Regions from separate parts of the Homo sapiens genome. Here region 1 is linked to region 2. Evidence: fine-mapped expression QTL. A gene starts in region 2. The other region holds a variant in brackets. All regions are shown on one strand. Distances are between the middles of the regions. Region 1 overlaps VPS45 (vacuolar protein sorting 45 homolog). Region 2 holds the start of LINC02988 (long intergenic non-protein coding RNA 2988).

The links.
Region 1: its variant is fine-mapped to the expression of LINC02988 in whole blood (TOPMed, PIP 0.98).

The regions. Positions count from the first base shown.
Region 1 is chr1:150,088,981-150,091,835 of GRCh38, forward strand. The region is part of intron 10 of VPS45 (vacuolar protein sorting 45 homolog); the gene reads left to right. Among named protein-coding and RNA genes, the nearest start is that of VPS45, 23 kb to the left of the region's middle. The variant T/C (reference allele first, on the strand shown) is at 1,443.
Region 2 is chr1:150,159,495-150,162,411 of GRCh38, forward strand. LINC02988 (long intergenic non-protein coding RNA 2988) reads left to right here and starts at 1,234. Exons shown (of 4, transcript NR_135098.1): 1 at 1,234-1,316. It overlaps PLEKHO1 (pleckstrin homology domain containing O1), which reads left to right. Exons shown (of 6, transcript NM_016274.6): 6 at 1-571. The coding sequence ends at 29. RefSeq lists silencers at 164-213, 1,914-1,983, 2,572-2,641 and an enhancer at 994-1,303.

The DNA.
Region 1 (2,855 bases), 71 kb before region 2:
TTCATACTATTTTCCATAATGGCTGTACTAATTTACATTCCCACCAGTTGTGTGTAAGGGTTCTTATTTCTCCACGTCATCATCAACAACACTTACTATCTCTAATAAGAAACAGCCAAGAGTCAAGATCCAAGTGAAGGTAAATAGAAAAGGGCAGAGACTGATTACTGCAAATAGTCTTTGACTGTCATCATACCAGTTTTGTGAATTTATAGTTACTTGGATTTCTCAGATTTGCTTAAAAGTACAGAGACAGATCAGCCAGAAAAGGTGGTAAGAGAGTGACTGCAAGGGCAGGAAATGAGACATTGTGCCTATAAGAAAAGTAACAACAGAAATCCCAAATGGGATTTCTTTTCTTTTTAAAAAAATTTTTTAAAATTTTTATTTATTTATTTGAGACAGTTTCACTCTGTCGCCCAGGCTGGAGTACTGTGGCACGTAATCTCGGCTCACTGCAACCTCCGCCTCCCAGGTTCAAGCAATTCTCCTGCCTCAGCCTCTTGAGTAGCTGAGACTACAGGCACCCGCCACTACATCCTGCTAATTTTTTGTATTTTTAGTAGAGAGGGAGTTTCACCATGTTGGCCAGGCTGGTCTCGAACTCCTGACCTCAAGTGATCCACCTACCTCGACCTCACAAATTGTTGGGATTACAGGTGTAAGCCATGGCACCCGGCCCCCAACAGGATTTCTTAATGTTTTAAACTTACGCTGTTGATTGAGATACATACATAATTTGTACCTGAAATTTCTTCATATTATAGTAGAAAATAGTGGAACATTTGAACAGATACCCTAAATGGGCTGTATTCCGTGGCTGCTCTAGGGGAAAGATCCCATGAAAGGAAAAAAATAAGAAAAATCTTACGAATTTGGGATCGAAATCTACAGAAGAGAAGTTTCTCCCTTTTTGATCCCTTAAGGATGATGGTAGTGAAATAGTAACCCAAAAAATCAACAATAGAAATCTCTTTCAGAGAACTCTGTACTTGAAAGCTACATGGGAGGTTCCCCATTATCATCATAGTCCCTAGTCAGTGTGAACAGAAGAGCTCTTAGACATTGGACATGGTTGTTGTCAGGTACAAAAGAGATAATGTACGTGAAAGCATTTTGTAAGTTGTAAAGTAATCATATAGTTGATAGTTATGTCCTCAGAATTCAGTGCCCTTCAAGGCTCTTGCCAGCCTTTCAAACCAAGCCATTTCTTCCTCTGATTTCCATATTTATTTTGATAGTGCCACTGCTTTTGGTCTCTCACACTGGTTCCAATACTTACTGATTCTTCAGGACCTTTGGCAAGTGTCACCTCTGTGAAGTCTTTCCTAATTTCTCAACAACCCAATATACTTTCTCTTCCCCTTTCTCTCCCCTTCCTCTTTTGCACTGATTTTCAGCTTTTGCTTTTTGTTTTGTTTTTTGCATACATGTTTCTGTTA[T/C]AACACCACATATTTGTTCCTGAAAAACCTCATATTCTATAAAAACATGCACTAAAAAAAGGGTTATGAGAATATAGGGTTATAAGCAGACCACTTAAAATCTACATGACTATAGAAAGAAAGAAAACATTCATATAATTTTTAAATCAGAGCCCTAATAAAAATAGTAACAATTATAATAAAAATACTAGCATGGTTAAATCTCCACCGGCATTTGCACCTAGAAATAGAGCCAGTCCATCCTCTGCAGCCTTATTCCTGGGGCTCATGTTTTCTTCAAATTATAAGGTCTTGAAAATACTCACTTCTCATAAAGACTACTTTGTCAAAATTAAAAATACCATATGGAGACAGCTTTCTTCATCAATCAGTGTTTGATTGTTATTTTGTTTTGTTTTGCTTTTTTACACAGTGCAATATATTTGCATCCTTTTTATTTGCACTTGCCCTTTCCCCATATAGCATAACACAGTGGAAAGTGCAACAGTTCTTGAAGCTACAAAACCAGATACTTCTTGCAGAACACACTTCTGTAGGATTATCATCTTTTTTTCTTAAGGTATTGGTAAGGCTTCCCCTTTAATCATAAGAAAGCCTATCCATTCTGGAAAAATTACATGTGAACCAATATGCCTTCTGTGTTAAACTGACACCATTTCCATATTTATCCATCTCACAGAACTAAAGTACATTAAAGAAACATGTATATAGCAGAATAAATTATATTACTTTGATCATCCTTCACCCCATTGACTGTGAACTCACTGGGGACAGGAATTGTCTTTAACTTATCTGTGTGCCTGCAACAGTGCATGACATACTGCCTTATGGGGACTCAAAAGTATTTGTTGACTTGAATTAAATTATTTGTTCTGCTGCATAATAAATATAAATCTATACTATATGGAAGGTCCTGAATATGAGGATTAAAAAATGTAAACATGGCTTCTCCTGGCCCCCTTTCCTATCGGTACCTGCCTCTTAAAATCATTAAGTACTAAATCTAGAGATTACATGCTATTACATACTCATCTCTGTCAACCATGTTGAGACATGTTCTGATGCTTCTTAGAGATCAAGCCCAGTCTGTGTAAAATTCTACCAACTTGTCTCCATTTCACTGGTCAATCATTAATACTAAGAGAAAGCAGTAGGTTTTGCAAATCAACTAGTCAGTTTTGTTGTGCCGTATTGATTCAAGTCGTGGAAATAGTAAGTGTTCTTTCAGCAAGGAAATTACAACTTCAGCTATTGGAAAAGAAAAGTGGAACTATCCATTATTAAATTCATTTTTGTCCTAAAGCAATTACAATGGAAATATATTTCCTTATTTAATTCTTACCTTGGACAAAAGGCATTTAATTTTCTATAGTTGAGACAGTTGCTAAATGTATGACTTATAATTGTCATAGT
Region 2 (2,917 bases):
ACAGTCAGTACCGGAAGAGCCTGATGTGAGGGCAGGGTGGGGTCTGGAACTTGTCGGGTTGGACAGACTCTTATCTCCGTGTTGCTGGATAAAGCTTTTTTATTTACCTCAATCAAAAAAAGAAAACAAAAATGAACTCATTGCTCTTGCTGATGCCTGACCCCACTACAACCCTTATTGCCCCACCTACTTTCCATATGCCCCTCGTATGCCCCTCAGGTTTGAGGAAGTGACCCCGCAGCAGTAGCAGGAAGTTTTTACCCAGCCAGAGAGAGAGAAGGCACGGTAAAGACACAGTCTGACCACTCCACACACCGCCCGCCCCCAAGACGGCACAGGGAGTCCACTGCTGCTCCCAAGGATACAGTGGGCTTCTAAGCTTAGAGCGGGAGGGGGATGAGGATGTTTTCTGTTATGTCCCACCCCAGGCCTTCAGTTTGAGGGTGAAGTTTCAGCTGCCCAACTCTAGTTGTAGGGATGTGGAGGCCAGTGTCACCTGTCCGTGCACATGGAAGTGAAATTTATCCCAGCCCTGAGGAGGATTTGTGGAATTAAAATCTCCCCAGCCAGACACTGGCTTCTCATTCCTAGCAGTCTCTCATTGAGATCGAGCTGCCTGGATTTTCTTACATGAGGTGTTTCTTCCCTTCATCTTCCACACCCTTCCCAACCTTGACTCAAAGATCCACCCTTGTCGGGCGCAGTGGCTCACGCCTGTAATCCCAGCACTTTGGGAGGCCAAGGCGGGTGGATCACCTGAGGTCAGAAGTTTGAGACCAGCCTGACCGACATGATGAAACCCAGTCTCTACCGAAAATACAAAAAATTAGCCAGGCATGGTGGTGGGCGCCTGTAATCCCAGCTATGCGGGAGGCTGAGGCAGGAGAATCACTTGAACCTGGGAGGCAGAGGTTGCAGCAAGCCAAGATTGTGCCATTGCACTCCAGCCTGGGCAACAAGAGCGAAACTCCGTCTCAAAAAAAAAAAAAAAATCCAACCTTGAGTGGATGAGACTAGTTTCATTATTTGATTCAGGGCCCTAGCACAGGGGAACTAGAGACAGACCCCACAGAAGAACTGAACTAAGAATGAAACTGGTGTGTGATGCAAGCTGGGTAGGATGAAGGGGAAAACCAAACATCTGTCCAAGTTCCTCTTTCAGCCATGCTGAGGTTTCCTGTAGCCTCCCCCTCTCCTTCCTCAAACCTCTTCCATCACTAAGCAAGTCCCCACTTTAGAAAAGCATCTGGATGCCCACGCCACCACCCTCCCAGCCACCTCTGAAGTTGCCAGGCTTCCCAACATTCTTGTCTGTGGTAGGTCCCACACAACTCACTGTTCACTCTTTCCTTGGAAGTGTGTGAGATGAGGTTTAGTAACGGTGAGGTCCCCAGAAGAGCTATGAAGGGAATAATTTGATTTTGGGAAAGAAGGGGACAGAGTCTCATGAATCAAGTAAATGAGGGGTTAAAAGCCACATTGAAGTGTGCCTTGCTAGCTGCTTGATCCTCCAAGAGCAGCGGGGCTTCACTAGAGGTAAGGGGAGGAGGGGGAGGAAACGGGGCCAAGTTACATGTAGACCTGGCCATGACGCTGCCCCGATGTTATAGGAAGATGGGATAGGAGGAAGCGGGGGAAAAACCTGTGGGAGAAACAGATTCTTCAGTCCGCATTCTTCTGCTCTAACGTCACTCCTACAACCCATGTAAGCAAAATGGGGGCCTCTGTCCCCTTTCCAGAAATCATCTCTTTCCTTCACAGCTCTTCTCTGGACCTTATCACTGCTGTTAAACCATCCCTAGGGCAGAGGAATTCTTGCTCTCTCTAGTCCCTTGCCACTCTGTCATGGAGATTGTCCCCAGCTCTAGACTGTAGTTACCTAGCCTCTTCCTTGAAGAATGTGTATCCCAGTTGAGTGAGGGAAAGTGTGCAAGAGTGCCACCTTCATGTCATTCTATGGTCTCTTGGGGTATGAGGTGAGAACCCAGGCTTCCAGACTTCCTGTCCTTCAAATAGCTGCACTCTCCACAGCCCTAAGCATGGTCAGCAGAGCCATCCATTGTCACAAGTATTGAAGTCTAAGGTAGAATTATGCTTTCTTTTTACAAGTCTCTATCTTTGTATTTTACCAGCATTTTTCCTTTTCTTTTTTTCTTCCTTGTTGCTCCCACATAATGAAAAAAGACAAAAGCACAAATGACATGTGTATCCCAACATGTCAATTATCTGTGGCTCCCAGGGGAGCCAGAAGATGGAGGGAGACACTAGAGAGGAGAATGACAGGTGAAAGAAGCAGAAAAGAAAGATCGGGGACCTCACAACAGTAAGAGAGGAGCTGGGCACTGTGCTCCTGGGCTTCAGGCTCTAAAACCAACAGCTTCCAGTTCTCCAGCAGTTACTGGAACATCCAGGCCCTAGGGTGGTGAAATGAGCCCAGCTTTGAAACCAGATGGATCTGGATTCAAATTCTAACTCTGTTACTTCTTGATTATGAGGCTCTGGGCAAGGCACATGCTTTCCGAGTATCAGTTTTTTTCATCTGCAAGCTGCAGAGCTATTGGATGGGTGAGGACAATATGGAAAATGCCTGTCAGTCAGAAAGTGACCACTGCAGCTACTGTTACTGGTTTGACTCTGGGCAGTGAGCCGCTAGCTCAGTTGGAAGGAGCACTGTGTGAATGAGGCCACCGGGGTGGGGTCACTGTCACTTAGCTAGATCCAGGCCACAGGCTGTGCTGGACCTCTCTCTTCAGAGGAGAGAGCCAGAAGGGATGAAAGCATGGTCCCTGGTCTTCAAGAACTTTAGAGCTTAGCATGGAACCAGGCTTCCCACTAGAAAAATCGCTTAAGGTGCACCCTTGTGGTAGGCTGCTGGCATGAGTTCTGTTGAAGCATTTGTATTGAACCTGGGCACTGT